Linked DNA regions of Homo sapiens. The protein of the gene in region 1 purifies or fractionates together with the protein of each later gene. This does not show direct contact. Each region holds a gene or a part of one and is shown in the gene's direction. Other genes may lie near its edges. The genes, in order: CPQ, PARL, HS6ST1, SLC25A16, C1orf198 and SLC25A20.

The links.
Region 2: the proteins of CPQ (region 1) and PARL purify together in Homo sapiens (affinity purification with mass spectrometry; one large-scale study listed by BioGRID and IntAct). This does not show direct contact.
Region 3: the proteins of CPQ (region 1) and HS6ST1 purify together in Homo sapiens (affinity purification with mass spectrometry; one large-scale study listed by BioGRID and IntAct). This does not show direct contact.
Region 4: the proteins of CPQ (region 1) and SLC25A16 purify together in Homo sapiens (affinity purification with mass spectrometry; one large-scale study listed by BioGRID and IntAct). This does not show direct contact.
Region 5: the proteins of CPQ (region 1) and C1orf198 purify together in Homo sapiens (affinity purification with mass spectrometry; one large-scale study listed by BioGRID and IntAct). This does not show direct contact.
Region 6: the proteins of CPQ (region 1) and SLC25A20 purify together in Homo sapiens (affinity purification with mass spectrometry; one large-scale study listed by BioGRID and IntAct). This does not show direct contact.

Annotation. Positions count from the first base shown.
Region 1 is NC_000008.11:97,137,350-97,142,009, forward strand, and holds part of CPQ (carboxypeptidase Q preproprotein), read left to right. Parts: intron 1-4,660. UniProt on the Homo sapiens protein: Carboxypeptidase that may play an important role in the hydrolysis of circulating peptides. Catalyzes the hydrolysis of dipeptides with unsubstituted terminals into amino acids.
Region 2 is NC_000003.12:183,828,101-183,833,990, reverse strand, and holds the end of PARL (presenilin-associated rhomboid-like protein, mitochondrial isoform 1 precursor), read left to right. Parts: intron 1-165; coding exon 166-267; intron 268-401; coding exon 402-499; intron 500-4,281; coding exon 4,282-4,393; 3' UTR 4,394-4,720; downstream 4,721-5,890. UniProt on the Homo sapiens protein: Required for the control of apoptosis during postnatal growth. Essential for proteolytic processing of an antiapoptotic form of OPA1 which prevents the release of mitochondrial cytochrome c in response to intrinsic apoptotic signals.
Region 3 is NC_000002.12:128,265,816-128,271,095, reverse strand, and holds part of HS6ST1 (heparan-sulfate 6-O-sulfotransferase 1), read left to right. Parts: intron 1-2,225; coding exon 2,226-2,934; 3' UTR 2,935-5,280. UniProt on the Homo sapiens protein: 6-O-sulfation enzyme which catalyzes the transfer of sulfate from 3'-phosphoadenosine 5'-phosphosulfate (PAPS) to position 6 of the N-sulfoglucosamine residue (GlcNS) of heparan sulfate.
Region 4 is NC_000010.11:68,477,498-68,480,010, reverse strand, and holds the end of SLC25A16 (solute carrier family 25 member 16), read left to right. Parts: 3' UTR 1-2,013; downstream 2,014-2,513. UniProt on the Homo sapiens protein: May be involved in the transport of coenzyme A in the mitochondrial matrix. Very little is known about the physiological function of this carrier.
Region 5 is NC_000001.11:230,840,138-230,845,417, reverse strand, and holds part of C1orf198 (uncharacterized protein C1orf198), read left to right. Parts: intron 1-1,521; coding exon 1,522-2,064; intron 2,065-5,280.
Region 6 is NC_000003.12:48,884,360-48,889,639, reverse strand, and holds part of SLC25A20 (mitochondrial carnitine/acylcarnitine carrier protein), read left to right. Parts: intron 1-5,280. UniProt on the Homo sapiens protein: Mediates the electroneutral exchange of acylcarnitines (O-acyl-(R)-carnitine or L-acylcarnitine) of different acyl chain lengths (ranging from O-acetyl-(R)-carnitine to long-chain O-acyl-(R)-carnitines) with free carnitine ((R)-carnitine or L-carnitine) across the mitochondrial inner membrane, via a ping-pong mechanism.

The DNA of each region.
Region 1 (4,660 bases):
AGCTCTGTCTGCTGGAATTAAATGTCCCTTCCTGTTTCCTGACATCCACAATTCTAATTCATCCTCCATTCACCCTCAGTGACTTCTGTTCTTTGAAGGTTTTGACTCTGTCCTTGTACATGAATTTGACATTCACCTGATACTCTGTGGGGTCCAGAGAGCATGTACTCCCCACCAGCTTCAACTAACTCTAAAATGTCACAGTTTCTGTTAAAGTGCTTTCTAGCTACTACCAGAGTAAACATACAGATTTGTCTCCCCTGGGTGTGCTGTGAGTTCATGGCATAAAGTATTTTCTGGTTTTAAAATGGACTTCTGGCCTGTAATCCCAGCACTTTGGGAGGCCGAGGCGGGCGGATCATGAGGTCAGGAAATCGAGACCATCGTGGTTAACACGGTGAAACTCCTTCTCTACTAAAAATACAAAAAATTAGCTGGGCGTGGTGGCAGGCGCCTGTAGTCCCGGGAGGCGGAGCTTGCAGTGAGCCAAGTTCACGCCACTGCACTCCAGCCTGGGCGAAGAGCAAGACTCCGTCTCAAAAAAAAAAAAGGACTTCTGGCTTTTCTACTGGGAAATGTGGTTATCTGTGCCTTCTGGAGGTCAAGATGTCATCATCTGGCCCTGGTCCCTCTCACTTCTCCTCAGACTGGACCTCTTCTCCAGCTGTTTACTCACCTTCGTAGTTGTTCACACAATTTCTCCTTCATGTTTTTTGGAGCATCTCCCTAAGGTGCATCTCTAGTCACCCCACCTTCTCATTCATCCTCCCAACCACCATGGCTCCACATTTATGAACTACATTCAGTCTATTTTCAGCCTGACATTTAGGACCTTCCACAGGTAGTTGCCAACTTTATCTGCCAATAATTAGCCCAAGTTACCCCCCAGTGTCAACCAAACTGGAACGCTCACATGTTCTGTTCATCTGGAATACCTGTGCCTATATCTGTCTGTTGACATCCTAAGTACTCCACCCCAGAGCAAGGGGTTTATGGGAGTAGATAGGGGAAAACTCTGGTACAAAGTTGTAAGAACGTGGGTTGGGCTTGGAGAAAATCTAGATGGCATCCTGGGGCAATGGAGGGCTCAAGAACAATGGCAATGTCCAGTCCACAAGACAGGAGGTAGGGGATTTGAAGAGGGAAATCCTAGCAATGTGGTTACCAGAAACACATAGAAACATACCTCCCCTTCCCTAAAATAGTTATTGGATATAATAATAATTGCCTTTTAATAATACATGACTTAGCAAGAGGCAAAATAAGGGAATTCCTCAGAGGTGAGAAATAATAGAAATAATGAAAATCTATAGAAGTAAGAAAACCCTGGGGCCTGGCATTTGTCTGCTAATCCCTGTTTGCCTAGAGCATGGGTTTTAATGAGCAGTGGGTGCATCTAGGACAAGTACAAAACTTGGGGCCACTAGTGTACTTTATAAGATATTGATTAACTTTAGACTTATTAAGATGAATATGTAACCTATAATTTCCAAGGTCTCCACTGACAGAATTGAAATAAAGCATGTAGCTTCCAAACTATAGAGTTGGAGGGAAAAGGAATGAGAGAAGGGAAAAAAATCAACCCAAAAGAAGGCAAGAAAGAAAGAAAAAAAAGAAACCTAGAAAACATAATAAACAGATAGAAGCAAAAAAATTCAACTCTAAACTATTCATAAGAGAAACTCCTAAAAGTATGAGATAGAGAAAGGCTGCCAGTAAAACGATGGGAAAGGACATACCAGGGTAATACTCTGCAAAAAGAACTAGGTGTGCCTATCTTAATTATTAGGAAAAACTGGACTTCCAGAACAAAAAGCAACATTACAGATGAGTTTTCAATTTACCAGGGATACATAATTTTAAATTTGTATACCCCTAACAGCATAACTTTGAAATATATTTTAAAAAATTACTGGAACTACGGAATATTCAAAATCACAAAGGGACATTTTCACACATCTCACAGAGGGACATTTTCACACATCTCTCTCAAAATTGATGGGTCAAATAGACAATAAATCAGTAAGGAGTTAAAAGGTTTGAAGAACACAATTAAGAAGCTTGATCTAATGGACTTACACAGAGCACTGAAAGCACATTCTCTTCAAATACACATGGAATATTTACAAAAATGCATCACATACTAGGCCATAGAGCAAACATCAACAAAATTCAAAGAATCTATATCATACAGCCAACATTCTCTAACAGTTAAATTAGAAATCAATAATGAAAAAAATAACTCAGAAAACTTCATACTTTTGAAAATTAAAAAAATGCATTCTAACTCATGAGTCAAGGAAAAAGTAAAACTAGAAATTAATAAATATTTAGAACTGAATTGTCATGAAACTACTAATGGGAACTGGTGAGATACAGCTAAAGCAGTATTGAGGGAAGATTATAGCCTTACTGCTTATGCTAGAGACAAAGTACGTCTGCAGAGTAATAAACTGAGTGTTTAACTCCAAAAATTAGAAAAAGAAAAGCAAATAAATCCAAAGAAAGGAGGAGTAAAATAATATAAGCATAATATAAACTTAGGAGCAGAAATCAATGGAAGAACAACTACTAAATAATAGAAAGTATCCAAAAAATGAAAGTCATCATTTTTTCTTTTTCTTCAAATTATTAATAAAACTGACAAACTGCAAGCAAGATTTAAAAAAAAAACAGAGAAGACACTGATAATCAACATCAAGAATGAAAAAGAGGGCATCACTATAGATGCTGCAGACATCAACTAAAATTAAAAACAGGATATTACTGACAACTTCATGCCAATTATTTTGAGCATTTAGACAAAACTCACAAATTCCTAGACAAATGTAATTTCCATAGTTAATTCAAGAATAAGTACAAAACCTGAATAAGCCAATAACCATGAAAGAAATTGAATCATTAGTTAAAATTGTTATCATAAAGAAAACATCAGACTTTGATGGCTTTGTTAAAAGTTCTACAAAATAACCAGGAAATAAATAATTCTAATCTTACACAAACTATCCCAGAATGTATAAAAAAAAGAAGGAAAACCATGTTATGCATCAGATACATCCTTGATACTAAAACTGGAGAGCCACAAACAGAAAATGTAGGTTTTTCAAAATGAAAATTTACAATAGCAACAAAATATATAAGCCATCAAAGAAAGAAAATGAACAAAAGGGATGTAAAACTGTTATAAAACTTTAAAGACATTAAGAAGACAAATAGAAACATATATAAACACACCATTTTCATGGATAAGAACACAATATTCTAATAAAAAGATGTTCGGTTCCCCCCAATTTAAAATAGATATTACCACAATTCTGATCAAAATCCAAAAATACTTTTGGAGTATATTTAAATGATTCTAAAATTTATCTGAAAGAGCAAATGGTTCTGAATAATCAAAACACTCCTGAAGAAGAAGGAAGAGAAAGTGAGGGAATTTGCCCTAACAGATATCAAGGATTCTAAAGTAATAGCAATTAAGATAGTGTGGCATTGTTGCAGAGATAGACAAATAGATCACTGAAACAATTAGAAAGCCCCAAAATAAACATATAAGGAAACTTAATATGGCACAATCCGTACCGCAGATCAGTGGAGAAAGAGGATGTACTACTAATGAATAAATGTTTCTAGGCAATGGAAAACTGAAAATAGAATCCTACCTCACACCCAACACAAAAATCATTTCCTATTCTGGATGGGTAGAGAACTTAAAAATGAAAATAAAATATTTTTAAAATTTAGAATAGAATTTCAGAGAATATCTTTGTAATATTAGGGTAAGGAAGGACTTCTTAAGACATAAACAGTATGGATCTTACAGGAAAATATTCATAAATCCAACTACATTGAAAGTAAAAACACTTATTCATCAAAACACACACTAAACAGGGTAAAGAGATGAGCCACAAACTGGGAAATGATATATACAAACTTACTAACAGAAGTGTCTAAATTATGCCAAGAACTCTTACAAGTCAATAAGAAAAAGACAAATCCATTGAAAAATGGGCAAAATGCATGAACAAGAACTTCACAAAAGAGAAAACACACATAAATGACAAAAAAATCCACATGTAAAAACATACTTAATCTCACAATTAGTTTCTTTTAAAACTGAAAATGAAATGTTAGCATTTCACACTCACCAAATTTACAAAAATTAGTTTGACAATATCAAGTGCTGTAGACTATGTGAAGCAAGAGAATGACTCATATACTAACAGTGTAAGTGTAAATTGAAAAGGAAAACATTTTGGAATTGCACGGTAAAATTGAACACACACATACTCTATAGCCCAGCAAACCACTCCTACATTCAAAGCCTTGATAGTGTTGGTAGCAGCACGTAATAGAAAACTGGAAACCACCTAAATGACCATTGTTGGTAAAATGGATAAATAAATACAAAGAGGTAATATACTGCAATAAAACATGAAAATACTAGAGCTATACACAACAGCATAGATAAATCTTATATATGTTTGAATGGAAAAAGCAAGCTAAAGAAATATATCTGGAGGATATGGTTCAAAAGTAGGCAATATTAAACTGTATATCTGTACACGTATAATTGTTATATATAGTCATATACATATATGTGGTAAAGTATGAAGTGGTAAAACTGTAGAAAAGCAAGGAGTAATTAAGAGGCAAGACA
Region 2 (5,890 bases), on another chromosome or scaffold:
CACCTATTATTGGGGACATAAGTAACTGAAAGCTTTGAAGCTTTGTGCTCACCTAGAAATGTGCAGCATGTAAACTTTCTAGAAAATGTGCTGCTCTTTAGACCTTGTAGCCACTAAGCAGTTGCATATTGAGTTTCCCATTCTCCCTGCTGTGTTACTTTGCAGTCTGGTGCCATCATGACAGTCCTCGCAGCTGTCTGCACTAAGATCCCAGAAGGGAGGCTTGCCATTATTTTCCTTCCGATGTTCACGTTCACAGCAGGGAATGTAAGTATTTTTATGAAGTGCAGTGCTGGGGATAGTGGTGATGTTTTTATGTTGAGTGGGTTCTTGCCCTTAAGTTAGAAATGTCAGTGCTGGAGCAATCACAGTTGTGCCGCTTGTTTCTTGCTGCCTTTCAGGCCCTGAAAGCCATTATCGCCATGGATACAGCAGGAATGATCCTGGGATGGAAATTTTTTGATCATGCGGCACATCTTGGGGGAGCTCTTTTTGGAATGTAAGTTTGAGTGTAATTGATTGCTAAACTGCTTCCTTGGGTCATGCGCTCCTCCTACCCCAGCCTCACCCCTACCCCCCATCCCCATGGCAGAGACATTGAACTATGCAACGGAAGCAGAAGCAGGTGGGCTTGGGAGGGTGAGGAAACCTCAACGTGGCTTGCTTTGGGTTTACCCAGCATACCTGGCTCATTGTAGAGACAGTCTGTGCCTTTACCCTACGCTTAACCTTAAGTTGCCCCAACTGTTGGCCTGTTATTCCCAGCCCCCTCTTAGAAGACTGCAGCCTGGCCCCCAGTCTATGCTGACATCTTCTTTTTCCCCTTCAGACTTTCCTGCCCTCCTCTCCCCTGCCTGGCGTCCCACCCTGCTACCCTGACCTCTGTCTCGCCAGTGCTATTTAGACATGCTGAGTTGGCGGAGCCATTGCTCTGTATGACTGGAGTAGAGGCCGGTGACTGCAAACCAATGTGGACCACTTACTGAGTACCCGCTGTATGCAGGCACCAAGCTAGTTCCCTTATGTTATACTATTACTACTCCCATTTTACTGATGGGAAACTGAGGCTCAGACATCATCTTCCCCAGGCCAAACAGCTCTTCAATAGCAGAGCAGAGCTGTAAACCCACCTCTATAAGCCCTTTCCACCCCCACCACACCATATGGAATTGGTTGCTAAACTGCTTCCTTGGGTCACAGCAAATGGCATTGTGGTTACAAGACCTTCCACGTGTGCTTCAAACAATGGGGTTTTGCCTAGACTAGTGCTTAGTAGTAACTGTATCACGGAAACACGGTCAGGACTCTTGGCGTCCATCTGATCGTGGGAGACCCGTCAGCATGAGCTGGATCCCCTCGGGGCCTGTCTTTTCTTACATAAATGTTGCCTTTTGCCCTTACTTGGTTTTTATTTTGTTCCGCGACAATGGAAAACTTAATTTTTTTTTTTATTAAAAAGAAAAATCTATTCTGGCCAGGTGCAGTGGCTCACGCCTGTAATCCCAGCACTTTGGGAGGCCAAGGCAGGCGGATCACAAGGTCAGGAGATCGAGACCATCCTGGCTAACACAGTGAAACCCCGTCTCTACTAAAAATACAAAAAACTTAGCCGGGCGTGGTGGCGGGCGCCTGTAGTCCCAGCTACTCGGGAGGCTGAGGCAGGAGAATGGTGTGAACCCAGAAGGCAGAGCTTGCAGTGAGCCGAGATCACGCCACTGCACTCCAGCCTGGGCGACAAAGTGAGACTCTGTCTCAAAAAAAAAAAAAAGAAAAATCTATTCTAAGTGAAGCAGTTTTTCCCAGTAGGTGGCAGAACTAAATGCCATTATGCCATTTATAATTTTAAGTGATTAAAGAGGAGTAGTATGTAGTATATGCAAGGTCTAGCTCTAACAGCAGTGCAGTATAAATAGTAGAAACTGACCTGATATTACAGTATGAGAAACATGAAGGGGTTCTGTTTTGTGAGCTCTAAATTTATCTTCCATGTATACTTCAAGGCTCTTCTCCCCAGTAGATTTTTATTCATCTGAACTATAATTAGGTGGCCTTTTTCCATTCTGAAAATAATTGGATCAAATGCATTTTAAAGTCCAGGGTCTGAAAGGTGGAGGAATCCTTTCTCTTTACTGTTTCTAATTTAAACTCCTTTTCATTTACTAGATTTCAGTCATGTCCAGAATTCATCTTTTCTAAAAGCTTTAATCTAGATTTAGAAATCTAAAATCTTTTATTTATTTTTTTTTCGTTGAAGTGCCCTGATTTTGTTGGTGGTAAAGACTCCATTAGTATCCACTTATACATTTCCCTGACTTTGCCTCTGACCAAACCTTACAGTATTCACATTGTACTGTTGCAATAATAATAGCTAACATATTAATACGCTGAATATTTGCTGTGTGCCTAAGCTAAGGATTTAATTCTCTTAAAATCCTGTGAGGTATTTTATTTTACAGAAAAAGAAACTGCTTAAAGAAAGTAACTTATCCAGGTCACACAAGTAACAATTGCAGAGCTGGAGTTTCAGATGAGGGCTGGCTTGCGCTGCCGCTACAGAAAAGAGTGCCCTAGAAATCGGTCATCTTGCATTTCCCGATTTTAGTTTAGCCAAATGAAAAATTCCTTTTGGATTTATGAGTATAATCAGACAGTATACCTGTGAAATTAAAGTATTTGACTCTTTGCTTGAAATAAGTAGGTTAAAAAGATTTGGGTGGCCGGGCGCAGTGGCTCACGCCTGTAATCCCAGCACTTTGGGAGGCTGAGGCAAGTAGATCACTTGAGGTCAGGAGTTCGAGACCAGCCTGACCAATATGGGGAAACCTCGTCTCTACTAAAAATACAAAAATTAGCCGGGCGTGGTGGTGCATGCCTGTAATACCAGCTACTTGGAGGCTGAGGCAGGAGAATCACTTGAAGCCAGGAGGCAGAGGTTACAGTGAGCTGAGATCACGCCACTGCACTCCAGCCTGGGCAACAGAGCGCGACTCTGTCTAACAACAAAAAAGATTTGGGAAAACACTTTATTAATGAAGAGTTCCTGACAAAGTGATTTTTTTGGGGAGAATTTTTATAATTGCATTTGAATATTAGGGTGCTCCTTTTTCTCTCATTCTAAATTCACCAGAGACTTAAGCACAGAGAATTTTTATTACATGCCTGTTAATTAATGTGTATAATCAGATTTTAACTATATTTAGTGAATATTAAGATTCAGGTACAAATCAAGCCCTTTATAATTAAACATACACATTCAGAACATTTTTAAAATATTAAAACATTAAACTGCTCTTCTCACCCACTCCAAGTCAAATAGCATTTTTTCAGTCAGGTGTCTGGGAGCTCGATGCAAGATAACAAAATCTGGTCTCTGCCTCAGGGAACATGAAATCTGTTTGGGGAAGCCAGAGCAAAAATAAAGGTTTTAATAGCAAGCTCTCACTAACTGCCCCTGGAAATCCACCCCACATCCTCCAGGAAGCCTTTCTCTACCCCCAGTGCCCTCAGGAGCTTCTCCAAGGCAGGCCCTTCCCAGAGCGCAGTGTGCTCCCCAGCTCACAGAAGATGCTCCCTACACGCTGCAGGAAAGTCCAGTGCCTGCAGCACAGGCTTCAGCAGCAGACTCGGGTTCTAGTCTCAGTCTGCTGATTCCTAGTTGTGGAACCTGAGCAGGCGAAGTTACTAAACCTCTCTGTGCGTCAGCCTCCCAGGCTCGTTGCTTCAGGCCGCAGTTAGGCTGTGTGAACAGGAGAGTGGGGATGGGAACTAGGTATCTTAAAGCGGGGCAGAGTTTGGATGAGCGGGCCACCCTTCGTATAGTTAGGAGGAAGATGACGGGAGGCATGGAAGCTGGGATAGCCATCCTGAGTCAGTGCTAATTCTGACACTTCAGAACATCGAGTCAGTCTGACCTGCGAGTGAGCTTTCATTGACCACTTAGAAACTATTAGCACCTTGGACAAACTACTTTCTTTCAGACCTGGTTGCTTCATGTCTGCGATGGGAAAACTGATACTTAACTTGCAGATAGTGGTGAATCAAAAGTAGTATATGTGAAGTACTCACACACTGCGGAGCATTCAGCCATCGTCCCATCCTACTTCTACCTTTTACATATTGTAATATGAAAGCTAAACCATTTCTCGATGTGAGTCAGTTTTAATCGGCTACATAGTGAGTGGCATTCGATTTTAAAAATGTCAACTTGGGATCTGTCACCATGCTACTTACCATTTGTATGTCACACTGTTTGAATGTCGGACCTGGTTTGTTTTTCTCCAGATGGTATGTTACTTACGGTCATGAACTGATTTGGAAGAACAGGGAGCCGCTAGTGAAAATCTGGCATGAAATAAGGACTAATGGCCCCAAAAAAGGAGGTGGCTCTAAGTAAAACTGGGATTGGACAGTAGTGGTGCATCTGGTCCTTGCCGCCTGAGAGCCCCAGGAGACATCGGCTAGAGTGACCATGGCTATGCTCCCGTCTGGAAGATGCCAGCATCTGGCCTCCCACTGTTTTCAGCTGTGTCCCCCAGTCCGTGTCTTTTTAGAATGTGAATGATGATAAAGTTGTGAAATAAAGGTTTCTATCTAGTTTGTAAGCAGATGTGTGTGTTCTCTCTTTAAGGGGCCGACACGGCTCTGGCATTTTGCTTTGGTTGTTGCATTGACAGGACCTGGGGAGAGTGCACCCTGAAAGGCCTGATCAGAACATGAAGGCGCTGGTTGCCTGTCTTTGGACCCTCCAGTGCCTCTGCTTAGCCTTCACTCTTCCTTGCCTCCCCCTCCCCTGGGTTGGCTGCACATAAAAGTCGAGAGTATCCCCTCTCCAGCACAATCTGAAATAACAGCTGCAGTATTTTCTCAATTTTCAGGAAAGGTAGTGTTTTCTGGCAGTGAGTGGCATATACAAAAAGCTATTTTCAGGTTTTGCTTTCTAGGTTCAATTTGTAGATAAATTAAGAGGTAGAAAGAAGTGATTTGGGTAAATTCAGACTTGAATCTGAGCCGAATTTTATCTTCTGTTTGAAAGTGTTCTAATTGAAGCGTCTCACTGAAATAGCAGATAGTGGCTGTCGTCGTCACAGCCTCACTGTTGTGGAATTCATGTTACCCTCGTGACTGAGAATGACATCTAGGAAATGCAGTTTGAGAGTATGTTCTTCTTGAAGTCATTTACAGGAGAATTTTTAGTCTTTTGATGGCTTCAAAATGTTATACCAAGTCTTGCAGCTTTGTCCTGGGAGGATCGAAGGCCCTGATTTCAGCCTCCTGTGGCCGATCGGACTCAGGTTGTGTGCCGTGGGGGATGGGAATGGCGGCTTTGGAAAAGGAGTGGGAGTGGTGCCCACCTCACCAGGCAAGTGAGAACTGCATGGCAGCACGCGCCCAGCACATAGAAATTGTCCAGTATTTGGCAGTCCTTCATATCCTTCTTCCATCAGGCTGGACTTGTTTCTACTATGATTTACAGTTATTCTTCCCAGGCACAGGATTCTGTTCTAAACTCGTATCACTTCTAGGGGAGAGAGTTATCTTAGCCATCATTTTGCCAGCGAGGAAACGGCACACGTGGTGTAGGGGCACTGCCCAAGGTCACAATGCTTTGCTCTGACATCTGCTAACAACTCTGCAACACAGATGAGGCAAGATGCGTTTTCCAGAGATGGGATAGGAGGCTGAGTTCATAGGGACATTCCCTCTAGAGCCCAACATTAATTCACATCGTGCTTTGGGCAGACCAGGCAAAGAGGCAATGAAGACATCTCTGTGTCCCTGCTTTGTGACTGGGAAAAAGTTAGAAGTCCCTGTAGCATCTCCTGGTCCCTAAAACCCCTCAATGCTGGAGCCTCTGTGCATGGCCTGGGGAGGCCAGAACCTGGCTGTGGCC
Region 3 (5,280 bases), on another chromosome or scaffold:
GCAAGTCACACACCCTCTCTGGGCCATGGGCAGAGGAGCTCATGATGGAGGCATGCCTTGGGCTTCAGGGGATGGTCCCTGAATGGGTGTGGGGCTGGGGCTGAAGGACCCGCCTGTGGGCTGGGGCGCTGAAAATGGGAGAGGAACTGAGCCATTTGTGTTTCCCAGATGGGGCCTGCTGCACTGTGCACAGCGTGTCCTTGCCCTCAGAGTCACCCTTGGGGCCAGAGTCCTTGTGGCTGTAACTCACAGGGTCATTGGCTGGGGCTAGGAGGGCAAGCTTCTCTGTTGGTGGACACATCACACTGTGGTTTTTTGTGTTCAGAAGAAACCTGCCACACTGGCCTGTCTCCATCCATTTGGTCACGGCCCCACAGGAGTGGGGAGCGGAGGTCCATGCGGCCCTATGCCTCCCCTGGACACAGGGTCAGCTAGGAAGGATATGGATAGCCTCTTCTGAGCAGTCAGGGCCTCGTGAGCCTGAGGCAGGAGACAGAAGCCTGCCCCGGCCGCCTCGGGCCCTTACTCCCTGGCCCTTGGTCATTATTGTTTCTAAAACGTTTGTCTCACCTGCTACCTGAAGAAGGTCCCGCCCTCTGGCCCTTGAGGCCCCGAGTGCCCAGGAGCTGCTGCCATCAGCATGGATGGGTGGTACCAGGCAGGCTGTGGGTGCAGGGTGCTTGGGGAGGGCCAGGTGTGCCTTGGGACGTGTGAAGTGGGAGCCTGGAGCAGGGAAACTGAGGCCTGCTCTCGCCCCTGCTGCCCACAGCTTATCTGCCCCCTGGAGACCAGCCGTGCCTGACCCTGGGGTCGTCAGCTCAGTCCTGCTGGGTCCTTCCTCCACCCCATCTGCTGAGAGCTCCTCCAGGGCAGGGTCTGAGCCTGCCAGGCCACAGAAAACACTGGGCGGATGACAGCTGCCTGTCCCTTCCTCGGCAGTCTGCATGCAGTAGTGCTGGCCTTGCTGCCTGCCCCTGGAGCCATCACTGGCTACCCCGCCTGCTTCAGAGCTGCCACCCCTGGGGCTTTCTGACATGTCCTCATAGGCGGGGGTGGCCTGCAGTGGCACCGCACCACTTGCCAGGCACTGTGCCTCCCTCCCTGCAGGGAGGTGTGCGGTCAGATCAGGCAGTTGCCAGCGGACACCAAGAAGCGCTTTGTGCTCCCCGGGGTCCCTCCATGCCCCCCACCCCCACCCCTGCCCAGGGCAGTGTGAGGGGAGGAGGGGAGCAGTGTGGGTACACTTCCATGTTGCCATCTGGGGAATCCTGGCGGGGGGTCAGGGCCCTTCTGGAGCTGCTCCCCCGGGCAGTGAGGGGCCCTGTGGGCTCCTAGGCTGCCTGCCTGGCCCTGGTTCTACTTGGCCTGAAGCCCACCCACCCCAGCGTGGACAGGAGCCAGGAGGAGGAGCCCTCTAAGAATGACTGCAGCCTCTCCCGGGGCTGAGCCCACACACACACACCGGGCATATCCACAGCCGCCACCACGTTTTACCCACCTGTCCAGTGTCCTGACGCCTCCAGCCCAGCGTCATAGCGAGCCTGGCAAGGACATGCTTCATGCTGGGCTCCTGCCGCGCAGGGGAGGGTGGGAGGTGGAGTCTTCCTTGGGTCGTTTCTCCCTTGTGCACGCACCGTTACATACTGTGCAATGCGTTGGTGTCTTGGGGGACAACCCAGCAAGTAGAGTTGGTGTATACGTCATGGCTTCCTCTGGGGTCCTGGGCTGGCTGGTCCGCTGGGCACCCCCCCCCCAACCACCACCAGGCCTTGGCAGGACCCTGGGACTGGGACTGGAGGTGACCCTCGCTGGCCCCTGCCCACCTTCTGTTCCTGCTGAGTGGCTCTTTGGGTGGCACCATGCCCAGGCTGTAAACAGCTGGTGAAGACTGCTGGCCTCAGGCGGCTGTGGCTCTGCGACTTCTCTGGATGCGGTATTGGTGGCTCCACCCACCAGCAGGAAAAAGTCAGGTTGTCCCTCCAGAGGAGCCAGGCCAGGCGCTGCAGGGCACTGTGGTGGTCATCCTGGGTAGCCATGTGACCGTGGCATGCTCCTTGGCATCTCTGATACCGGGTTTTGAAACGACTGAGAGCTAAGTGCAGGAGTTGGTTGGCATTAGAGGCGAAGCCCAAACTCCTGTAGTGGGGACTTTGACTCAGAGCAGCCCTGGTAGCCCCCCTCATGCTGCGTCACAGCCCTCACCTCCTCTCCCCGTCTCCTTGCAGGAAGTTCTACTACATCACCCTGCTACGAGACCCCGTGTCCCGCTACCTGAGCGAGTGGCGGCATGTGCAGAGGGGTGCCACGTGGAAGACGTCGTTGCATATGTGTGATGGGCGCACGCCCACGCCTGAGGAGCTGCCGCCCTGCTACGAGGGCACGGACTGGTCGGGCTGCACGCTACAGGAGTTCATGGACTGCCCGTACAACCTGGCCAACAACCGCCAGGTGCGCATGCTGGCCGACCTGAGCCTGGTGGGCTGCTACAACCTGTCCTTCATCCCCGAGGGCAAGCGGGCCCAGCTGCTGCTCGAGAGCGCCAAGAAGAACCTGCGGGGCATGGCCTTCTTCGGCCTGACCGAGTTCCAGCGCAAGACGCAGTACCTGTTCGAGCGGACGTTCAACCTCAAGTTCATCCGGCCCTTCATGCAGTACAATAGCACGCGGGCGGGCGGCGTGGAGGTGGATGAAGACACCATCCGGCGCATCGAGGAGCTCAACGACCTGGACATGCAGCTGTACGACTACGCCAAGGACCTCTTCCAGCAGCGCTACCAGTACAAGCGGCAGCTGGAGCGCAGGGAGCAGCGCCTGAGGAGCCGCGAGGAGCGTCTGCTGCACCGGGCCAAGGAGGCACTGCCGCGGGAGGATGCCGACGAGCCGGGCCGCGTGCCCACCGAGGACTACATGAGCCACATCATTGAGAAGTGGTAGTGGCGGTGGTGGCCACGGGGAGGCCTCTTGGGGGGTGTGGGGGATAAAACAGGACAGACGACAGGTCCACCCAAGACTGTCAAGGGATGAGCATCCCAAACCTGCTCCACAGAGGTAGCTGCGTCCTGAAAAAAAACAGAGCAGGGATGTAGTGGGGCTGGGCAGGGATGGGGGCTTGAGAAATCAACAGGTGCAGCCCAGTGGGTCAGAGGAAAGCGTGCTCGAAGGATGCCATGGTCAGGGCAGGGCCTCCAGAGCAGGTGTTGTGCCTGGAGCTGCTCTCCTGGCCTCCTTGGATTTATCGCAAAAACTGAAGGTTTGCGCAAGAGACGAGGACAGCGGAAAGTGGACCTGCCAGGCCGGGAGTGTGTCCCTCACCAACTATGCACACAGCACTCGCTCTTAGCTCCTCTGTCCGGGCTACTAGGAGTGAGACCAGCTTCTGGCAACTGCCCCAGCTCCAGGCCATCCCATAGCCCCTCCTCTTCTGGCTGCCCCCAATGCCCCGAGGCCTGGGGAGCCCCCAGCTCACCCATCTGTAGCTCCCTCAAAGTCAGGGCCCACCCCATCTGAGGCAGAGAAGACTCGAGTCCAGCCCCCAGGAAGCCTGCTCCCCTCTCTGGCCCATGGTCCTGCTTCATGCTTTGGGTCAGGAGGCCAAAGCTGATGTTCAGGCCCCACCCACTCCCTACAGTCCTCAGACCAAGGAGGGGTTTGGGTAGTAGGCCCGAGCTGCATTGCCGGCCTTCCTCGGGCCAACTGGCAGCCCAGGAGTGGGGAGGCTTTGGCCAGGGATGCTGCCACTTGTGCGTGAGTCCGCGGCTGGCCCTTGGAGGTGACCATCCAGGCAGGCCTGGCTCAGACTGGAAGGGCTGGGGACCGAGGGCTCCCCTGCCTCTGTTCTCCTTTCTGACCCACTGGGATTTGCTAGCAGGCTGCCCCAGCCCCATCACCGAAACACATACTCAAGAGCTCAAATACCACTGCTCCCACCAGCGTACGGATTAAGTTCATCAGGCTTCCATCGGCTGGAGCATGGGACCATAGCCCCTGCCCAGGAGCCGTACCCTCGGACCACAGTGGCTCTGTATGGCCAGGAACTGGGACTCGAGCTTTCAGATTCTCAACTAGCCTTGGCAAAACAGCTGTAGGTGGCCTCCCTGACAACAGACACTCAGCCCTCCCCACCCTGGCTCTCCTTGCATTTCCCCATGCTCCCCACCCCCTGGCAAAAGGCTGGCCATGCTCTGTTCCCAGCAGCCGCGCAGGTTTCCCCACTGGCTGCAATGGCCCTACCAAAAGCCATGTTGCATATCCGTTGTAAGCACGTGCCCTGTGCCCTGTCCCCATTCCTTATGCCCTAGGAGGCCAAGCTGGTGTCTCTAGGAGGGCCCACACAGGCACCCTGGATCCCCCAGAGAGTAGATTGGTGTGCTCAGGCCGCAGGCTGACTCAGAGGTAGGGCAGTGGGCTCTGCAGGCCACCTGGCTGGGGTTGGTGGGGGTCCTCTCTCCTGCCCCAGCTTCCACTCAGCCACCACAGTTGCCACACCATGGGGTGGAGACGTGGGTCACCACGGGCTTGGGAGCAAGCGCCTTCTGCAGCACAGGAAGCCGAAGCTGGGGTCAGGTGAGGTCGCTACCCCTGGAGGTCTGGCATAAGGGCCCCACCCTCAGGTCTCCTACACTGGCCCCATTTTACTTTGGGGTCCAAGGACAGGATGGTCAACAGGGCAGGGTGGACAGCGTGCCAGCGCCGCGCAGGGCCACCTCCCTGGGTGGATGCATCACACTAAGGAAGTGAGTGCCAAGGGGATTTAGTGGTGTGGTTCTTTCAAAGGGAGGTCAGGGTCAATGGGAATCTGCTCGGACACTCAACATGGGGGTGGGTGCACTCCTTGGAGGAGGAGGAACACGTTCAGGGGATTGTGAGGTCTTGCACAAGCCACGTGGGGCACCTTGGCTTCCCGGCAGGAGGTGGACACCCAGCCAGAGGCCTGGCTCAAGGTGACCTCACCTTCACCATGGGCTTCCTGGGTGCGCGGGCCTGAGCGCAGGTTGTTTTGTACATATTGGAATATGTGTTAACTTATGCCCCGCATCCCAACTCACACGGAAGCACGGGTCTTGTCTCAGTCTCTTCGCTGCATTTGGAAAGCAGTCTCCTCTCGGGCCAGCGCCGGGCTGAGGTGTCCAGAGGCGGCGGCAGCTGGCAGTGCCCTCAGCCCCCAAGTGTCCAGCCTGGCACTTCCCATTCAGGCCACCTGCTTTGGGTCAACAGTTCCTTTGCCAGCAGCATCTCCTAAATTGTAAGGACTCTGTCCACCGGGGCCCTCCCAGGGCTGTG
Region 4 (2,513 bases), on another chromosome or scaffold:
AACGAGAGTCTTAACTCTGTCACCCAAGCTGGAGTGCAGTGGTGCAATCTCGGCTCACTGCAATCTCCACCTCCGGGTTCAAGCGATTTTCCCGAGTCATCTTTCCAAGTAACTGGGATTACAGCTATGTGCTACCATGCCCAGCTGAGTTTTGTATTTTTCTTTCTTTTCTTTCTTTTTTTTTTTTTTTTTTGAGACAGAGCCTCACTCTGTTGCCCAGGCTGGAGTGCCCAGGCTGGAGTGCAGTGGTGTGATCTCAGCTCACTGCAACCTCCACCTCCTGGGTTCTAGCGATTCTCCTGCTTCAGCCTCCCGAGTAGCTGGGGTTACAAGCACCCGCCACCACGCCCAGCTAATTTTTGTGTATTTAGTAGAGCTGGGTTTTGCCCTGTTGGCCAGGCTGGTCTTGAATACCTGACCTCAAGTGATCTGCCCCCCCGACTTCCCAAAATGCTGGGACTACTGGCATGAGCCAGTGCTCCTGTCCTCATTCCATTCTTCACCGTGGTACTGACCATCCATTTATTCAGCACCAATTGTGTGCCAGACCTTGTGTCAGCATTATGGAGGACTTCCCTTGGGAGGCTTGTTAGCTGTACTTGCAATCTGATTTGGGTTCCCAAATCAGCATATAACACCAGGTATTTCTCTAATAGAGTATGTGCCACACTTTCTGCTAACTGCCTGTTTATCAGTGTCCCCACATCCCAATATCTGGTTCCTTCAAGGGCAGGGAGCACAGGGTATGGCGTCAGAGTGGTACTCAGTGATGTTTACTGGTGGGTAGAAGGAAGGGTTAGTCCCTGTTTTTGAAGACTTTATGTTCTAGCAGGCAGAAATGAAGCACAAATAGTTCAAGAAATAAACAATTTAGGAATAAAGTCATTTGGTTTGCTTCGCAGAAATGTCTTATTGCTGATTTGCCAGCATGAGTGGCAAATATATAATAAAACCTGGCCGGGCATGGTGGCTCACGCCTGTAATCCCAGCACTTTGGGAGGCCAAGGTGGGCGGATCACGTGGTCAGGAGATCAAGACCATCCTGGCCAACATGGTGAAATCCCATCTCTACTAAAAATATAAAAATTAGCCAGGCATGGTGGTGGGCGCCTGTAGTCCCAGCTACTTGGGAGGCTGAGGTAGGAGAATTGCTTGAACCCAGAAGGCGGAGGTTGCAGTGAGCCAAGATTGCCCCACTGCACTCCAGCCTGGGTGACAGAGTGAGACTCTGTCCCAAAAAATAAAAATAAAAATAAATGAATATATAAAATAAAAAATATATGTATACATATCATATATATATATAAAATAAAACTTATAAATAGTTTTTATGGCTGGGTGAAGTGACTCATGTCTGTAATTCTAGCCCTTTGGGAGGCTGAGCGAGGAGGATCACTTGAGCCTAGGCATTCGAGCCCAGCCTGGGCAACATTGCAAGACTCTGTCTCATTTTTTTATATAAAATGTTTTTTTAAAAAACCCTATGTATAATTATTTATTTTTTTTCCCCAAGGATTATTCCCAAACTATGTACAATTAATGGGTTGCCTTGCAGAGTTGGATCAATAATACCTGACACACTTGTATAGCAAGCATACACTTTACATAGTTCCTCGCATCTATTCTTTGAAACCCAGACACATTCTAGTATTGGGCACTAGAAACTGGTGATAAATAATAACAATTACATATATTTCCTGAAGAATTATGTGGCATTCCTTGTTTTAAGCACCTTTGATGCCTTAGCTCAATCTCCATTACAATACTATGATATAAGTACCATTTAATATTTCTTTTTGACAGATGGGAATAATCGAGGCCTAGGGAGATTAAATTACTTGGCCAGGTTCATGTAAGTGGCAGATCTAGGATTCAAATTCAGCCGGTCTGAATCTAGAGCCTATTCTTTTAGCTATGATGCTATACTTTAATACAGTAATACACTGTTCAAATGAAACTGTAACATGTCATTAAATTTGAACTTGTCAATAAACATACCAAGCAATAAAATAATTACAGCTTGTGGAAAGTGCTTATGAAAACAGTAAATAAGCTACTTGAGAATGGTCAAGGAAAGGTTTCTTTGATGTGCTATATGTACATTCAACAGACACATGGAGGATGAAAAGGAAACAGCCATGCAAAGAGTTCAGGGGAAAGACTGGCCCAGGTGAAGAGAACGCCAAGCACAAAAACCCTGAAACAGGAAAAAGTTTGGTTTGACAATGGAATTGCCGAAAGGCTGGTGTGACTGAAGTATTGTGCGTGAAGGAGTAGCAACAGATGGAGTCAAAGAAATAGACAAAGGCGGTGGGGCATGGTGGCTCATGCCTATAATCCCAGCACTTTGGGAGGCTGAGGTGGGCGAATCTCGAGGTCAAGAGATCAAGACCAGGCCAGGCACGGTGGCTCACTACTGTATTCCCAGCACTTTGGGAGGCTGAGGTGGGCGGATCACAAGGTCAGGAGTTCAAGACCAGCCTGGCCAACATAGTGTTAACTCTGTCTCTACT
Region 5 (5,280 bases), on another chromosome or scaffold:
GCCATCGTGCCTGGCCTATTTTTAGTATATTTTTTGAGACAGGGTCTTGCTCTGTTGCCCAGGCTGGAATGCAGTGATGCAATCGTGGCTCACTGCAGCCTTGACCTCCCAGGCTCAAGCAATCCTCCCACCTCAGCATATTGAGTAGCTGGGGACCACAGGCGTGTGTCATCATGCCTGGCCTTTTTTTTTTTTTTTTTTAATTTTTTTAATTTTTAGTAGAGAAGGGGTCTCACTTGTTGCCCAGGCTGGTCTCAAACTGGGCTCAAGCGATTTTCTATCCTTAGCCTCCCAAAGTGCTAGGATTATAGGCGTGAGCCACCACATCTGGCGTATTAATTTATTTTAGAAAGAGGCAGGGAAATATGAGGGAGTAGAAATGGTGAGGGAAGAGAGAAGTCTTCAGAATTGATTTTAGAAATGATTGAGATTACAAATTGCTTGTTCTGCAGAGCTTGGAAGACAACATTCTACTCCAAAGAGGAGGTTTAGGTTGCCATGTAATGATTTTGTTGGTCAAAACAGCTCAGCAGTGTCATTTTTAGAGATCACTGTGGTTAGCAGCATCCAGATCAAGGAAAGCATTTTGTGGGTGCTCAGATGTGGGGCATAGGCTGTGATGGGTGCCAGGCCCTGCCCTGCCCTCTGGGTGTTTGTGATCTGAGGCTGGGTTCTGACCCTGGCTGCGATGTGGCCTTTTGTTGCAGTGTGCACCTTTCCTCGTTATCCTCCCAATGAGGGTCGTCACCTGCCAGGAAGGTGCTAGAACCACACTGGAGGAGACAGGAGGGTGCCCTGTTTACCAGGCAGAGAGCCCTTACTCATCGGTAATACTCAGATATCTTGAGCTGCATGTAGCATAGTGCATGAGGGAGTGTATCAGTGTGTTCTTGTGTTGTTTTAAAGAAATACCTGAGACTGGGTAATTTATAAAGAGAGGAGGTTTAATTGGCTCACGGTTCTGCGGGCTGCACAGGAAACATGGCATCGGCATCTGCTTGGCTTCTGGGGAGGCCTCAGGGGGCTGTGGCTCATGGTGGAAGGCGGAGGAGAGCAGGTATCTCACATGGCAGAGCAGGAGCAAGAGGGAGAGAGTCAGGGGGAGGTGCCACACCCTTTTAAACGACCAGATCTCATGAGGACTCACTATCATGAAGACAGCACCAAGCCATGAAGTCACCATCATGAAGACAACATCCGCCCCTGTGATCCAGACACCTCCCACGAGGCCTCACCTCCAGCACTGGGGATTACAGTTCGACATGAGATTTGGGAGGGGACCACCACCCACACTCTGTCACCCGGCCTTGGCATTTAAGCTTCTGATGCATTTCAGGTGTGCGATGGGAGTCCTGACCATACCCACCACTCAGGACAGACAGTTCCAGCACATGGGCAACAACTCGTGTGTGGCTGGTGTGCGTCCTTATGCTGAGGAGGGGTGCGTGAGCTGGCACACTTGTGACGGTCGATTCTCAGGATCTCTTTCTTTTTTCTGTCCTTTCTCATGTCCCACCCTAGAGTCAGATGGAGTTCAGTATCTCCGCCCTATCCATCCAGGAGCCGAGCAACGGCACCGCCGCCAGCGAGCCCAGACCACTGTCCAAAGCTTCCCAGGGCTCCCAGGCCCTCAAGTCCTCCCAAGGCAGCAGGTCCTCCAGCCTGGACGCCCTGGGCCCCACCAGGAAGGAGGAGGAAGCGTCATTCTGGAAGATCAATGCTGAGCGGTCCCGAGGGGAGGGGCCTGAGGCCGAGTTCCAGTCGCTGACCCCTAGCCAGATCAAGTCCATGGAGAAGGGGGAAAAGGTCTTGCCTCCCTGCTACCGGCAGGAACCTGCCCCGAAGGACAGGGAGGCCAAGGTGGAAAGGCCCAGCACCCTCCGTCAGGAGCAGCGTCCTCTTCCCAACGTGAGCACCGAACGTGAGAGACCCCAGCCTGTCCAGGCCTTCAGCAGTGCACTGCACGAGGCTGCCCCCTCCCAGCTCGAGGGGAAGCTGCCATCTCCTGATGTCAGGCAGGACGATGGGGAAGACACCCTGTTCTCGGAACCCAAGTTTGCACAGGTGAGTGGCCTTTACCAGCGCGTCCTCAGATGGGATGGTGCCTTATTCCACGGGAACCGAGAGGGTCCCCCACAAAGCAGGCAGGCCACAGGTGCCCATGCTCTTTTTCTTCTCCTTCCCCTGCCTCTTCCTCAGAGGATGCCTAGGCTCAGGGTGCTGAGCCACCAACAAATATGCAACAAGACAAGTTTTGCGAGTCCATCTGGGTGCCCTAATTTGTTTACCAGTCAGGGTTCCGTGGCCCACTGCGCTTTCCCCAGTGCGCGGGCTGCTATCAGAAGAGGCCCCTGGAAGGCGCTGCGCCCAGGGCTGTCACAGCTCAAAGCTGTGTTGGGCCTTCTTTTTGGGAGCTGTCCATAGAGGCAATGGTCTGTTCTTTAGGACTGGTCTGGATTTGGGCCAGGGGAGCTGCCTGTTGGCAAAGCAGGCAGGCACACTTGAGAGGCCTCACTGGGTCTTGCCCCTCTGTGGGCCTCGCTGGGCTCCTGGCTGCCTTGCTGAGGAGTGAGCCCAGGATGCAGTTGCCTCCATGGTAGCCTCACCCATCCTCCTCTGGCCCTTGAGACTCCTTGGTTCTTGTGGGTCACTCTTTTTTTTTTTAATTTTTATTTTTTAAATTTTTTATTTCCATAGGTTTTGGGTGGTATTTGGTGACATAAGTTCTTTAGTGGTGATGTGTGAGATTTTGGTGCACCCATCACCCGAGCAGTGGACACTGAACCCAATTTGTAGTTTTTTATCCCTCACCCACCTCCCACTCTTTCCCCGAGTCCCCAAAGTCCATTGTGTCATTCTTATGCCTTTGCATCCTCATAGCTTAGCTCCCACTTATGAGTGAGAACATATGATGTTTGATTTTCCATTCCTGAGTTACTTCACTTAGAATAATAGTCTCCAATTACATCCAGGTCGCTGCAGATGCCATTAATTCATTCCTTTTTTGGCTGAGTAGTATTCCATCGTATATATATACCACAGTTTCTTTATCCACTCATTGATTGGTGGGCATTTGGGCTGGTTCCATATACTGAATTTTAAAAGTTTTTATTATGGTAAAATATACAAACATTTACCATTTTAACCATTTTACAGTATAAATTTGGTGGCATTTCAGTACATTCTCAATGCTGTGTAACCATCACTACCATCCATCTCCAGAACTCCTTTCATCCTGCAGAACTAAAGCTCTGGACCCGTTCAACACTAACTTCTCATTCATCCCTCCCCGCAAGCTCCTGGCAACCACCATTCCACTTTCTGTGTCTGTGAATTTGACTCCTCTAGGTACCTCATATAAGTAGCACCATATAGTATTTACCCTTTTGTGACTGACTTACTTTACTTAATGTGACGTCTTCAAGGCTCATTCATGTTGTAGCAAGTGTAGAATTGCCTTCTAAGGCTAATATTCCATCGTGTGGTTAGACCACATTTTGTGTATCCACTCATCCATCGACAGACACTTGGGTTGCTTCCACCTTCTGGCTATTGTTGTCTGTTAGGAATAGTGCTGCTGTGAACGTGTATGTACAAATAAGTCTTCCAGCCCCTGCTTTCCCTTCTCCTGGGTGCATACCCAGATGTAGAATTGCTGGATCACATGGTGGTTCTATTTCTACTTTTTTGAAGAACCTGCATACTGTTCGCCACAGCAGCTGCGTCATTTTACATTCCCATCAATGTGGGTTCGCGTTTCTCCACTCCCTTGCAACACTTGTTATTTTCTGTGTCTTTGCTGGTGCCATGCGAAGGGGTATGAGGTGGTGTCTCACCGTGGTTTAGACTTGCCTGTCCATGATCGTGAATGATGTTGAGCCTCATTTCATGTGCTTATTGGCCATCTGTGTATCTTCTTTGGAGAAATGTCCAATGGTCCCTTGCCCATTTTTAAATTTTTGGTTATTTTGTTGTTGAGTTGAGATCATCACTGATAACATTGAATGTCCCCCAGAGCAGGTTTCCAGTACTTCCACACCTCCCTCGGCAGATGGCTGCACGTGCTGTCCTCCCGAGGAGGGAGGATCCAGCGGTGCTAGTACCTTCTGCCCACCTCGGCTCCACATCAGTGCTCTAGCCTGTCCTCTTCGTGTTTCTGCACCTTCTTAAGCTAGTGCTTTCAGCCCTCTTGTTTCCTGCCTTCTCCGGTACCTGCCCATCTCTCCGTTCTGTTTTCTGTCTCACATCCTCCTGCCCATCAGCTCCTCCTTACAGACAGGCTCAGTTCCCTGCCTCCCTAACCAGCACTCTTTCTCTGAGACTCGGCACTGAGGGCTTCCTCTGAAAGAAGTATTTCCATAAAATAGGTGATAGTCCCCACTCTAAAGAGAAGCAGGAACGTGTTTCTGTGTGGGCAGTGGAGAGTAGGAGACAGCACATGAAATTCCTTTGAGAGAACAGATTTCTGAGTAAAGCACAGTGAAATGCCACTGCATTTAAGAAACTGGAAGGAAACCAGAACAAGGAAAACTGGATTGCACTCCTTCCATTCTGCATGTTTTGCCTCACTCTGCACCAGTCTCACATGTAGCCAAACTGGGCCTGAGACAGGTGTCAAGGGCAAGCCCATTAGCCCATTGCCTGCTCTTGCCGCCATGTATGCATTTTCTGCTGGCCGGCTGCTTGGAGGGTGGAGAGTCAAGGTTTCTTTGCTCAAGAAGACCTTGGCGCACCAGGTAAATGCCTGCCGGTGTTAGGCTGGAGGAAAGGGACATCAGAAACAGGCTGCTGAGTGGAAGCCAGTCAGAAGTTTTATGAAAACAGCAGCAGCTTGAGACAGCCCATGCTCACAAGAGGGGACCTGTCAGTTAAGCCCTTTCCCCTGAAAGAAGAATGACATTAAACCAGGCCTTGTGGTGCACGCCTGGTGCATGCCTGTAGTCCCAGCTACGTGGGAGGCCGAGGCAAGAGGATCGCTTGAGCCCCGGAGGCTGAGCTTAGAGTTTGGGAAAATCACTTCATAACCTTTCACAAGATCTGAAAGAAATAAGCTTCACATTCTTTCCACACTATGTTTACTTTCTCAACTTTACAAGTTCTTTTTTGTTGTGTTTGTGTGTGATGTTTGTTTTATATTTGAAGGAATATCTTTATCATTTGTTCTCTTATTTAGGATGAATAAATTTAAACATGGCTGTCATTCAGAAACAGAAAAGATTTATAGAAAAATACAGAGACATTGTTCTTTTCTCTGTAAGGTCTGTAAGCTGCTCACAGACA
Region 6 (5,280 bases), on another chromosome or scaffold:
ATTGCACTCCAGCCTGGGCAACAAGAGTGAAACTCTGTCTCAAAAAAAGAAAAAGAAAAAAGAAAATGTACACCTGCATCTGGATCAGTCAGTTTGATAGGGATCCATGTCAGAAGCGCATATGAATAAAGTCTGAAGGAAAAGTCAGCCAGTCCTAGAAACACTGAGAGAAGCTATCAGTCTCCAGTTCCCCTAGACAGGGACATTAAATTGGTTTGGAGTTATTATTATTATTATATATATATATTTTGAGACATGGTCTCACTCTGTTGCCCAGGCTTGACTACAGTGGCATGAACTTGGCTCACTGCAACCTCTGCCTCCCAGGCTCAAGAGATTCTCCTGCCTAAGCTTCCCGAGTAGCTGAGATTACAGGCATGTGCCATCATGCCTGGCTAATTGCACTCCAGCCTGGGCAAAAAGAATAAAACTCTGTCTCAAAATAAGAATAATATTAATAATAATAATAAATAACTTCATTAACACAGGTCTTAAAGACCTCATTGAGATCTTTTCCTTTGCTTCCTAAAATATAACTTTTTTTTTTTTGAGACGGAGTTTTGCTCTTGTTGTCCAGTCTGGAGTGCAATGGCACAATCTTGGCTCACCGCAATCTCTTGAACCATCTCCTTGGTTCAAGTGATTCTCCTGCCTCAGCTTCCTGAGTAGCTGGGATTATAGGCATGCACCACCATGCCTGGCTAATTTTGTATATTTAGTAGAGACAGGGTTTCACCATGTTAACCAGGATGGTCTCGATCTCCTGACCTCATGATCCACCCGCCTCAGCCTCCCGAAGTGCTGGGATTACAGGCATGAGCCACCACGCCTGGCCCTAAAATATAACTTTCATATAAACACTCTATTATAGTCTCTAAATTTATAGCCTTGATTAAATATACAGAAACTAAGTAGTAGTCATCCAGATAAAAAGGGAGTGATAGTAAGTGATGGACTCAGCCTTGGCGAAGTTGTTCCCAGGATTCCTGTAGGACTTGGGTGCAGAAGGAAGATCTTTTTAAACTATTTATTTATTTATTTATTTATTTATTTATTTATTTATTTATTTTGAGACAAGAGTCTTGTTCAGTTGCCCAGGCTGGAGTGCAGTGGCGCAATCTCGGTCACTGCAAACTCTGCCTCCCGGGTTCAAGTGATTCTCCTGCCTCAGCCTCCCGAGTAGCTGGGATTGCAGGCACCTGCCACCATGCCCGGCTAATTTTTGTGTTTTTAGTAGAAATGGGGTTTTACCATGTTGGCCAAGCTGGTCTCAAACTCCTGACTTTGTGATCTGCCCGCCTCAGCCTCCCAAAGTGCTGGGATTACAGGCATGAGCCACTGCATCTGGCTTAGGAAGATCTTGAGGCAGTGCCTGCCCAACCGTCCTTGAGTGAGGTGGTGCTACCCTTCTTTTTTTTTTTTTTTTTTTTTTCGAGATGGAGTCTTGTTCTGCCACTCAGACTGGAGTGCAGTGGTCCGATCTTGGCTCACTGCAACCTCCACCTCCTGGGTTCAAGTGATTCTCCTGCCTCAGCCTCCCAAGTAGCTGGGATTACAGGCACCTGCCACAATGCCCAGCTCATTTTTATAATTTTAGTACAGATGGGTTTTGCCATGTTGGCCAGCTGGTTTTAATCTCCTGAGCTCAGGTGATCTGCCTGCCTCAGCCTCCCAAAGCGCTGGAATTACAGATATGAGCCACCACGCCTGGCCTGCCCTTTCTTCTTCTTCTTTTTTTTTATGGAGTCTCATTCTGTCACCCAGGTTGGAGTGCAGTGGCACGATCTCAGCCCACTGCAACCTCCGCCTCCCGGGTTCAAGCAATTCTCCCTGCCTCAGCCTCCCGAGTAGCTGGGACTACAAGCGTCTGCCACCATGCCCGACTAATTTTTGTATTTTTAGTAGAGATGGGGTTTCACCATATTGGCCAGGCCGGTCTTGAACTCCTGACTTCGTGATCTGCCCTCCTTGGCCTCCCAAAGTGCTGGAATTACAGGCGTGAGCCATGGCACCTGGCCTTGTTCTTTCTTCTTTAAGCTCCTCCTCCTTACATCTCTAGTGCCCAGGGTAGAGTCTGAGCAGTGTCTGATGGAGGTTCTAGGCTTCAGGTCCACTTAGAGTCCTCTGCCCTTACAGAAGGAAGGTAGGCTTACCTGCCTCTTGGTCATTAGACGTTATTGAACACCTGCCTAGGGGTGGGCAATGTGCTGGGTCCTGGAGTTGTGGTGAGAATGTCTTGTATAAACCCAAGTCTTTGAAGAGTTGAATAGGCTTCCTTAGTCCATATTTGTGCATGTCCTGGTTTTTCCTGTGCCAGATTTGAGCTTTCTGCTTTCTGGAGCTGCCAGGCAGGGGTCTGTAGGTTGTGAAACATGGAACTGGGTTGGCCATTCTAGTGGAAGGAAGACTAGACAAGTTGTTCAGGAGGAATGGGCTTGACCTCTCAGGACCTGGTCATCCTTTTAGCTCATGTAGGGAGCTGTGGGAATGGCTTTGAATGGACTTTGTCATATGCTACTTTTGCAGATCCTCCTCAGATCTCTGTCCTTTTCCCATTTACTGCCTCTGTACTTTGTTCTTGGAGTCCACCTGCAGCCTGCAGCAGTTTAGGCTTTTGCAGGAATTAGGAGGAATGCTGACAGGTACAGTTGTGCCACTTTGATTCTGAAAAGAAAGTTTGGATACCCAGGGTCTGCAGTGAGGCAGGTTCTTCAGCCTGGGTCTGTGGAGCCCTGCCAGTGTGCAGCCTCACCCTGATTCTCCTGCTACTCTCTATAAGGAGAAACTTTAAAATTTTTTTGTATTTGTTTTAAAAAAATGGTTTTGAGATGGGGTCTTGCTATTTTACCCAGGCTGGTCTTGAACTCCTGGGCTCAAGTGATCCTCCCGTCTCAGCCTCCTGCGTACCTGAGATTATAGGCCCTGATACAGGCACTTCATTTGTTACTGAGAAGCTTATGACAAAGTAACAAAGTGATATTTATCTCTTTCCTTCATTCTCCAGAGGCAACTACTTTCAATTTTTTCAGTTGTTTATGCTGTTTCCACCTATCTACATAATATACATTTACTATTATATTTTATTTATTTATTTTTATTATTATTATTTTTTGTTTGAGACGGAGTTTTACTCTTGTTGCCCAGGCTGGAGTGCAATGGCGCGATCTCGGCTCACTGCAACCTCCGCCTCCCGGTTCAAGCGATCCTCCTGCCTCAGCCTCCTGAGTAGCTGGGATTACAGGCATGTGCCACCACGCCTGGCTAATTTTGTATTTTTAGTAGAAACAGGGTTTCTCCATGTTGGTCAGGCTGGTCTCGAACTCCCGACCTCAGGTGATCCGCCCGCCTTGGCCTCTGAAAGTGCTGGGATTACAGGCATGAGCCACCGCACCCGGCCATTACTATTATATTTTATACATTTTTATATTTTTTAGCTACCTATTTGTGGTACATTATTTTATATTTTAGCTCTTAGTCTCCCTATCCCCTCCTTCTGCCCTGCCCATCCATATGATTTTATCACCCTTTGTGGTTTAATCCAATTCACCATTTTCATGATTACAACTTTATATATATTTTTTCTCTTAAGTAAGTATGAAGTATGATGTGCATTCCATTCCTTGTGTAACTTCTTGTTTCCCTTGGGATTGGGTTAATAATTGTGTTAAATCTTTTGTTTTGTTTGTCTTTGAATCACTGTCTCTGTCATTCTGTACCCTAAATGCTCTGTAGTGTACCTTTCTGTTTGGTTTGCTACACACTGCCTAAGGAGTTATTTTCTGTTGTTCTAGTGTGTATTGTTTTGTTCTGTTTTTGTTTTAGTTTAGTTTTGTTTTTTTGAGATGGAATTTTGCTGTGTTGCCAGGCTGGAGTACAGTGGCACAATCTCGGCTCACTGCAACCTTTGCCTCCCAGGTTCAAGCGATTCTCATGCCTCAGCTCCTGAGTAGCTGGGATTACAGGCATGCACCACCACACCCAGCTAATTTTTGTATTTTTAGTAGAGGCGGGGTTTCACCATGTTGGCCATGATGGTCTTGATCTCCTACCTTGTGATCCGCCTGCCTTGGCCTCCCAAAGTGCTGGAATTACAGGCATGAGCTACTGCACCCAGCCTTGTTCTGTTTTTCTTGGAAACATCGCTTTTGGAGTCCTCTACTGCCCTGTGGACTGACTGCTTCCCAGGTCCACTGCACCCTGTGCCATCCTAGAAACGCATTTCATCTCTCTTGGACTGGCCCCCTGGTCTCCCAGGTCCTGAATCTTCCTCGTTTACCACCTTGTTTGGCAGGGTATTTATGTATGTATTTGTCTGTCTGTCTAATTATTTATTGGTTACCACATAATTCACTTTCTTTTTTTTTTTCTAGAGATGGGGTCTCACTCTGTCACCCAGGGTAGAGTACAGTGGCAAGGTCATAGCTCACTGCAGCCTTGAACTCCTTGGCTCAAGTTATTCTCCCAACTCAGCCTCCTGACTGCCTAGGACTACAGGCACACACCACCACGTCTGGCTAACTTTTATTTTTTATTTGTTTTTGTAGAGACAGGGTCTTGCTATGCTGCCCAGGCTCATCTTCCCTTTCATTACTAAACTGTGCTAGTGAAAATTGCTGTGCAGTTCTAACAAAAGTCCCATCTTAATACCTGGAAAATATAAAACATTTTCTTAATCACTTGTAATCTTACCCCAAAGAAGGTAGATCACGTTGTGTATCCTGTTTTGTAGCTTTTTTTTTTTTTTTTACTTAATAATCTCTTCTCATGTTATAATGTGATTTCTTGGCCATGTGACTCCATTTATGGAGTTTATAATTTGTCTTCTATTTGGCAGCTTTTGTTTTTTTCCCCAAAATTTTGGTACCTTATAAGTGCCTGAGGTTATTCTTTTTACACCTCTGAGTATTTCCCTAGAATAAATTCCTTGCAATAAATTTTCCACACAAAATATTTCCAGGTGAAAGGGTATGCTACATATTGGCAGATTGCTGGCCGGGTGCAGTGGCTTATGCCTATAATCCCAGCACTTTAATAGGCCAAGGCAGGAGGATCACTTGAGCCCAGGAGTTCGAGACCAGCTTGGGCAACATGGCAAAACCCTGTCTCTACAAAAAATACAAAAATTAGGTGGGCATGGTGGCGCACGCCTGTAGTCCCAGCTACTTGGGAGGCTGAGATGGGAGGATCACTTGAGCCCAGGGGATCAAGGCTGTGATGAGTTGTGATCGCACCACTGCACCCCAGCCTGGGCGACAGAGTGAGACCCTGTCTGAAAAAAAA